Linked DNA regions of Homo sapiens. The protein of the gene in region 2 purifies or fractionates together with the protein of the main gene of each other region. This does not show direct contact. Each region holds a gene or a part of one and is shown on either strand. Other genes may lie near its edges. The genes, in order: OMA1 and KRT86.

Region 1 (3,818 bases), on a different chromosome or scaffold from region 2:
CATTCAGAATGTTTTTATGGTTTCCATATCAGGACAAAATGGATGTTAGGCATCTCTGAGCCACGTTACACGCTCTCTTCTATCTCACTTGTATTAAATTTGGTGGCTTGTTATGAAAGCGGAACATTTTTTAGCAATTTAAGAATTGGTACTGGGCCATGTGCTAAGGCATAGCACAACAGATCCAGGTGTATTATAGAAGTATCTTTCTCATGCCTGTTATCCCAGCATTTTGGGAGGCTGAGGTGGGTGGATCACCTGAGGTCAGGAGTTCGAGACCAGCCTGGCCAACGGGGTGAAACCCTGTCTCTACTGAAAATACAAAATTAGGCGGGCGTGGTGGCATGCGCCTGTAATCCCAGCTACTCGGGAGATTGAGGCAGGGGAATCGCTTGAACCCTGGAGGCAGAAGTTGTAGTGAGCCGAGATCGTGCCACTGCACTCTAGTCAGCGACAGGGTGAGACTCTGTCTCAAAAAAAAAAAAGAAGTATCTTTCAGTATGACTTCAAATTCAGCCCAACAAATACGGAGTACCTCTTAAAAGAAAGAAATGATGCTAGATGTGGGGGATACAAAGAGGAATAAGATATGGTTCTTGATATTTACAGGATGCTAAGATAAATAAAAAATGATTATTAGTACAAGGATATGATTTATCATAAGAAAAATAAAAACGGTATGCAGTTTGAAGGAAGATGAATCTGCTTCTAGTTTGGGATAAGAAACTCTAGTGCAAGATTTATTCATTCATTAGGTAGATCGATATTTATTGATACTTATTGATTAATCTACTATTCTGTGTTCTATTGCTGGGGAATGAGCAAGGAACAAAACAGTCTGTTTTCTTGGAGTTAACATTCTAGTTAGGTAATGCAAATAAGAAACAAACATATAGTATGCCAAGCAATAATAAGTACCTTGGGAAAAAATAAAGCAGATTAAAGGTATTAGAGAGGGGTGGGCAGCAGAGAAGGGGTACTAGTCTATGTTCGGTTGTCAAGGAAGGCCTCACTAATCAGAATCCGGAAGGAAGCACGGGAGCAAGTCCTTTAGCTGTGTGGAGGGAGAGAGAGCCTTTTAGGCTGAGGAAGCAGCTGATGCAGAGAACCTAAAGTCAGCGTATGTTTGATGTGTTCAAGGAATAGCAAGGAAGACATTGGGGCTGAATGGAGTAAGGGAAGGGAAGAACAGTTCAAGATGAGGTGAAAGGGGACCAGACCACGCAGGATCTTCTAAGCCATTGTAAGGACTTGACTTTCACTTCAAGTGATAGGAGAAGCTAGTTGAGGATATTGAGCAGAGGAGTGACTTGATTTGACTCATGTTTTATTGTGATCACTGGCATTATTGTGTGGAGTAGACTAGTGGGGCAACGGTGGAGTCAGGGAGACTTTTTAGGAGACTCTCATAATCCTGGTAGGAGATGATGGTGGCTTGGACCAAGATATCTGGTAGCAGAAAATGGGGAAAGAATCAGTCAGATTCTGGATATATTTTGAAAGGAGTGATGACAGGATTTGTTGGTAATTTAGGCATACTTCGTGCCTTTTGTGAGCATTGAGGACAGCCAAGCATGGCTTCTTAACACCTATTTTAGTTTGTTCAGGTTGCAATAATAAAAATACCATAGACTGGGTGGCTTATAAACAACAGAAACTTACTTCTCACAGTTTGGAAGGCTGTGAAATCTTAGATCCAATTTCCAACAGATTTGGTGTCTGGTGAGGGCCCACTTCCCAGCTCATAAACAGCCATCTTCTCCTTGTAACCTCACATGGTAGAAGGGGCAAGGGAGCTCTCAAAAGCCTCTTTTATAAAAGGGTGCTAACCCATTCATGAGGGCTCCACCCTTATGACAATCGCCTCCCAAAGGCGCTTACCTCCTGATACCATCACATTGGGAGTTGGAATTTCAACATATAAATTTTGACAGGACACAGACATTCACTCTATATCAGCAGCTATCTTAACTAGATTTCATTTGTATTCTTAATTTGAAAAAAAAATTTGAGAAAGAAATAGCAGTGAAATTTACCTGATATAATATGTAGTAATTATTCCTCTTAAAAGGGTAGTATAGGCATGGGACATTATGTATTTCTTCAGTAACTGACTTGTACTGAGGATCACTGACTATAAGAGGGTCCTTTGTGCTATCCAAGGCCCCTGGGACTTTATCGCACCCTGGGAGGCCTGGGCCTGTCTCTAAAGCAATGATAACAATATGATTTTCTCTTGAATTTTTTTTCTTTTTATTTTCGCTCAATGAAATTCTAAAAATATGTGGTTTGTTTAATTGGATAATAAATTCTGTTAGCCAACTTTTCATGTGAAGACTCCTAAATTCTGAGTTGTCATTTCATCATCAAATTACTGAGCATCTTCGGAGAGGTAAAAACTGTGCTTTAGAGATGTCTTTAAAATAATAATGAATTGATTAGTGAGTAGGAAGAAAAATGGCTAGAGAAACAAATTTTATTTGGGAGCAAATGATGAAGACAAAGACGTGAGACATTTTTCTTCTAAAAATAAACTATCCTAGTTCAGAAACTTAATTTGAAAACCTCATATAATTTCTTATATTCCCCACCCCAAGTGATTAAATTCAATTTGAAAGTAATAAAACTCTATTGCAATATTGGGAATAACTCAGTGGTTGAAGTGAAACTGATAGTACAAGGGTATATTGTTAATTAGAATATACAGTCATAACTCAAAGATTGGAATTCCCTATTATTGTAGTCTAATTTCTGACATATAATGAAAGAAGGCAGTTTCTCAGGCAGTATATAGAATTATGTGAGTCTGTATACTACTACTACATTTTGAAATTATATTTTATGTAGCATGCTCTAGTGAGTATGTTATGTTCTACCTAAGGTTCCTGTCCTTTGACATCTCTAGCAGTATGGTGAAGTTATGTTCCCCTCAAAGGCAGTTGAGAATACAGCACTAGAGAGCACAGACAAATCCAGGCCAGAGATGAAGATTTCAGAGTTTCAGAGTCATCTAAAAAGAAGTGATAGTTGAAGCAATGAGAATGGATGAGTTCACGTAGGAAGTGATTAGAGAAAAAGATCAAAGTAACAGTATTGCATATTTTCCACATTTAATGGGTGGGAGGAAGACAGAGCCTGTGTTGGATCAGATTCATAGGAAATCAAGAAAGCAAATAGGAAACCAAGAAAGCAGGATTCTGTGGGTCTGTGATTAGAACACAAATTTTGATCATTTTGATTTTTAAACTTTAGCTTATTGAAGATTGTATATTTTTATTTCTTATTGGATCCCTTGCATATCATCACAAAAATGTATTGTTTCTTACTGTAGCTTATCAACTTTTAAAATGTTTTAAATTTACACTTTATGCATTCAACAAGTATTTATCAGTCATCTGTTATATGCCAGGTTGTAGGTGATGTGAAATAAATAGACAAAAATCCCTGTCCTCATGAAGCTTATTCTGCAGTAAAGGGAGACAGATAATAAATTTGGTGCTGGGGGCGGGAGTGGGGGGCAGTGAGGAGGGAGAGGCAGCTCTCTTATGTCTCTTTTTATAAAGCTACTAATCCTATTCGATCAGGGCCCCACCCTTCAGACCTCATTAAACCTTAGTTACCTCCTTTTAGGCCTTATTTCCAAATACAGTTACACTGGAGGTTGGGACTTCAAAATATGAATTTTAGAGGAACACATGAGTCCTTAGCACACAGTTATGTGTGAGCAGAGATGGGAGGGGTGCAGGAATAGCAGTGTAAAATGGGGTCCTTCAGCAGTCAAAGAAGGTTTCATTGAGAAGCTGACACTTGAACACAGA
Region 2 (4,618 bases):
ACCCATCATCCACTCTCTTCACCCTCCAGCAGCTTGTGGCAGGCAGCAATCTCAAAGTCCAGGCCCCACTTGACGATCACAGCTCTCAGTACTCACACAGCTGCTACATCACATCCTGCTTAGCTCGCTGCAGGGCAGCCTCCAGCCAAGCCAGCTTGCCCTTGGTGCTGCCAGAGCCACCCTCCTCCTGCAGAGCTGGCGGGTCCTTGACTTCCTCTAGTTCACAGGGCGTAGGGAGCGAAGGGTAGACCAAGGACAGAAGGACATTATTGGCCCTCACTCCTTCCCCCTTAAGGATCCAGACCTTGCTCTGAGGCTGCAGAGCCAATGAGGGATTGGAGATTGTCCATGGTTGCAAGGAGTGAGCACACCTGTTCCAAAACTTGTGTTTGTTTGTCTGTATGGCAAGATGAAAAGAACCTGCCCACCTGTCTACCTTCAGGGTGAAGATTTGAAACCGGCTATCTAGGATGGCTGAGAGAGAGCCTTTTACGTCTAGTATGGAGAAACTCCTAATATGAGCCAGGATCCCAGAAGCATCCAATGCTCTTTGGCATGTAATGCTGTGGTTATTGTTTCCTAAGGAAAACTAGCAAGAAGAATATCCATTCCTCACGGGAACCTAGAGTTTATACTCTTCAGGAGGAAAAATAATAAGACCTTGGTGAAGTGTATTTGCTGCTTGGGGAACCAGAACAGCTGTGGCTGGTGGGACCCTGACCATGATGGCCCACCCACTCACTCTGCCCCCTCAGAACCTCAGCAGCTTATCCCTTCTCAGAGTCACCCATTCCTGTACAAGGGAGATCTCTCTCCATGAATACCCTTCCAAGCCTGAGACACTTGCATCTGCAGAAAGCAAGAAAAGACCGGGAACAGAAGCCCTTCCCTCCATGGAGTGAGACTTGAGCCAGCGGGGGTGTGAGAGGGCTGGGAGGTGGGTGGGTTAAGAGAGGAGGCTAAGAGAGAATGGGAGAAAGAAAACATCCTGGAGGACTAGCTCCTTTCTAAGGCTCACAAATGCAAGTGCTTGCAGAGGCCTAGCTGGAAGCATCAAAAGGTGAAGGCTAAATATACATCAGGAGTACCCAGTTCCACAAATACATCTGCCCTCTCCCATTTCCTGAAATCACCAGCACCTCTTTTATATTTTCAGACTTGCATTTCTCTGGCGACATTGACTCAGCACCTTTTCTCTTCTACAAGGATAATAACTTGCAGCCAGGACAGTGATAAATGGCAAGGGACCCTCTGCCTCACATCCAAAGGATGGGATTGGGAGTGGTGGGGACTGCGGCACACCAGGCAGCCTATACCGCATGTGAAGAAGAGAGAGATGATAGAGGCCTCTCTCCTCTAGCCAAATGTTGCCATTTGAGAATCATAATTTAACATTGCCAGATCTTCACATTTTGAAATAGAACCCAGAAAACTGGGTTTCTAGGTAATATCTTGCAATTTCTGAAGATGGGCTCAAATGTAATACTGAGCGAGAAAAACAAAACACAGACATAAAAATGAACATACACAAGTAAAAAGATAATAATGTACAAACAAGCATATATCTTCATACAGATTTACCTACATGTTCATTACTTACATAAAATACACAATGTCCTAGGCAGAGGTAAGCATGATATATGCATGCAGCTGCACTGCTGTATGCTTAGACATTCACTAAGAGAAAGTGTAGCCATCTAATCCAAAGGGTAGGTGGGGAGGGGCAGTTGTCATAAATAATGGTCACCATCCCACCATGGCCACTCTGTTGCCCCCCACTCCCACCTCTCACCTGACTCTCAGCACTGCCCACCTCCACCGTCAGCCACTGGATGGCCTGATTAAGCCTGTTCAGATCCTCCTTGCTGGGCTTCAGGCTCTGCGTGTGTTTCTGCACAGTTGCCTTTAATTCCTCACACTGTGGAGCAGACGGCAGAGGGGAGCTGTAGTCAGGAGGTGAGGAGGCCAGACAGGGCTGCCCATCCACCTGCTGTCACCAGTGGTCACCTAGCTTCTCTGGGCATCCCTTTCTCCATCTGTGAAATGGGAGTGATCATTTTTCCTATCTCCAAAGGTTGTTGAAAGAACACAGTGAGCTTGCCTTGTGCCCATGGGGCCAGAAGATGCCAAAGGAAGCCTGAACTCAGGCAGGAAGGGCAGCAACACAGGGCAGTGATCTGTTGAGGGGAGCTTTGGGACCAAGATCACATAGGGTTTATCCCAGGAACAGGGAGAGTTAAACTCTAGGAAACTGATTATTGTAGTTTACAACATCTAACCATTTAAATTAGTACAAAAAAAATTAATGAAATTCAATATTTCCTAATTTAAAAAACACATTTTAAAATCTAGGATTAGGAAGAAATGTCCTTAATTTGAATGCCATTAATCAGAAACCAGGGACAGTGATCTAGATTCCAGCTTCTTCCCCAAACCCAAGGCTGCTATGGGAAGTGCTGTCTATGAAATCAGGGGACCACTTCCCTTCTTGCACCTCGCCCCCATGTGCATTCAATACACGAATAGCCAGGGAACAATAACTCACACTTGCACAGTGCCTGATGCTTTTCACAAGCTTTTACTCCACGATCTCACTGGGGCCTCACAACCACCCATGAAGTTGGCCAGATGGATGTGACTTTTCCCATTGTCTTTCCTCAGGCAAACTGGGGCTCATTCCATCCACCACGTGCAAGAGGGGAGTGAGTGACCCTGCCAGCCGACAGTTGAGCCAGACTACATTTTAAGCCCATGCTCTTTGCTCTCCACCAAGGTTATACACACCCCCTCAACCCAGAGAGCAAGAACTGTTCACACCAGCCCATTGCAAACTTTCTTCTAGGGCAGATGGAGTGTGGGGGAACAGACCTCAAAACATCATCTCAATTTCTGCTGTGTTCCCACTGCCCCCAACTTTTCTGCTCCTGTTCCCAAAAGCTGTATGCCCAACAGATCTGGGTGAAGTCCAAGACACCTCATCCCTGTGTGACCAGGGAGCCACGTGTATGAGTCTCACCATGGAGAAAGAACTGTGGTCTCCTCCAAGCCTCTCTTGAGCACCAAAGCCCAGCTTCAGCCCAAGAGCTACCAGAATCCTTGCCACTGAGGACTAGGGCCTCTTCTTCCTGGGGGCTCTGTGACCTCATCTCATTACAATCACAGAGTTCTGCCCAGGAGGCCTCAGGGGCATAGGGTAGAAGAGGGCCATACTCTGACCCCAGGTGGGAAAATGGAAGTTTCTGGGCTGAAGTGGAACTTAAAGGAAAGTGGAGGAGGGGAAGGCTACCTCAGGTGGAGGAAATGTGTGGAGCTGAGGAGCTTAGGCTTATGGATGGGCACTGGGGAGCCACAGAGGGTGTCTGAGCAGGACAGTGGCCTGACATGAGATGTGATTGTCTAGAAGCAGTGCAGAAGATTGACAGGAGGGCAAGAAATTGGGACTGGGGATGCCAGTCCCAAGACTTGGTAGGAAATCTTGGGTAGGGCAATGACTTTAACCTGTAGGAATGAGTAGGGGCTAGAGAGCACAAGCTGTGGTCAGCATTTTCTTTTTGTTTTATAAATTTCTCATATATGCAAAAGAGTATGCAAAACCTACATTTATTGATTTCAATAGCAACAATAATAAAACAAATCCTTGTGTACCCACCAGTACCTTCAAAGCCCCCTGCGGGATTTTTGCTGATCCATCTCCAACCCCATCTGATCCCCAAAGTAACCACTGTCCTGAGTTTTTATATTGGTCATTCCCTTGCTTTTCTTTATTACTATGTCATAACGTGTATCCATAAACTAGTGTTGAGTTTTGCCTACCTTTAAGTTTTATATAAATAGAATTACACCTTGTACATTTCTATGACTTGCTTTTTCCTCCTCAACATACTAGTTTTGAGATTCATCTTTTTGATGCATGTAGTTTTATTTCTCAGTGTTGTATAGTATTCCAAAGTATGACTACATATATATAGATAGATACAGATATAGACACACACATATACATATATCTCTATTTTCCTATAGGTAGCACATGTGTTTTTTGTTTTTGTTGTAACAAACAATGCTGCCATGAACTTTCTTGTACATATCTGCTGGTGGACCTCAACAAGAGGTTCTTTGGGGTACTAGTTGTCAAACTGTTTTTTAACCTCAACTCTAAATAAGAAATATATGTTGTATCATGAATCACTACCTACGTACAAATACACCACATCTACTGAAATAAGTTTCATGGAAAAATCATTTACTTCTACTATGTGTAAGGCAATCTGATCTAACCAATCACCTTAACACATTCTTTTACTTTCAACTTATGTCCTCATGTTTTAAGTTTATTTCTTATAACTAGCATATTACTTTATTATTATAATATAATGAAAATGAAATACTCATGAACCTACTTACTGATCCCAAAACTAAAATCTTACTAGTAATTTACATTTAGCTCCATGCTCCTTCCCTACCCTGTCCTCTCCTAACCACCCCAGAGGTAACCACTTCCCTAAAGTTGATATAATTCCTTTGTTTTTTCTTAGCTTTATCAAATACATGCATATGCCTCAATATATATTTGTTTCAGTTTTTTTGTTCTTTTTTTATAAAAAGTGTGTCACACAGGGTC

What was found.
Region 1: the proteins of KRT86 (region 2) and OMA1 purify together in Homo sapiens (affinity purification with mass spectrometry; one large-scale study listed by BioGRID and IntAct). This does not show direct contact.

Annotation. Positions count from the first base shown.
Region 1 is NC_000001.11:58,501,628-58,505,445, reverse strand, and holds part of OMA1 (metalloendopeptidase OMA1, mitochondrial precursor), read left to right. Parts: intron 1-3,818. UniProt on the Homo sapiens protein: Metalloprotease that is part of the quality control system in the inner membrane of mitochondria. Activated in response to various mitochondrial stress, leading to the proteolytic cleavage of target proteins, such as OPA1, UQCC3 and DELE1.
Region 2 is NC_000012.12:52,273,121-52,277,738, reverse strand, and holds the start of KRT86 (keratin, type II cuticular Hb6), read right to left. Parts: upstream 3,095-4,618; 5' UTR 3,020-3,094; coding exon of another isoform or gene 3,017-3,019; exon of another isoform or gene 2,662-3,016; intron 1,919-2,661; coding exon of another isoform or gene 1,793-1,918; intron 1-1,792.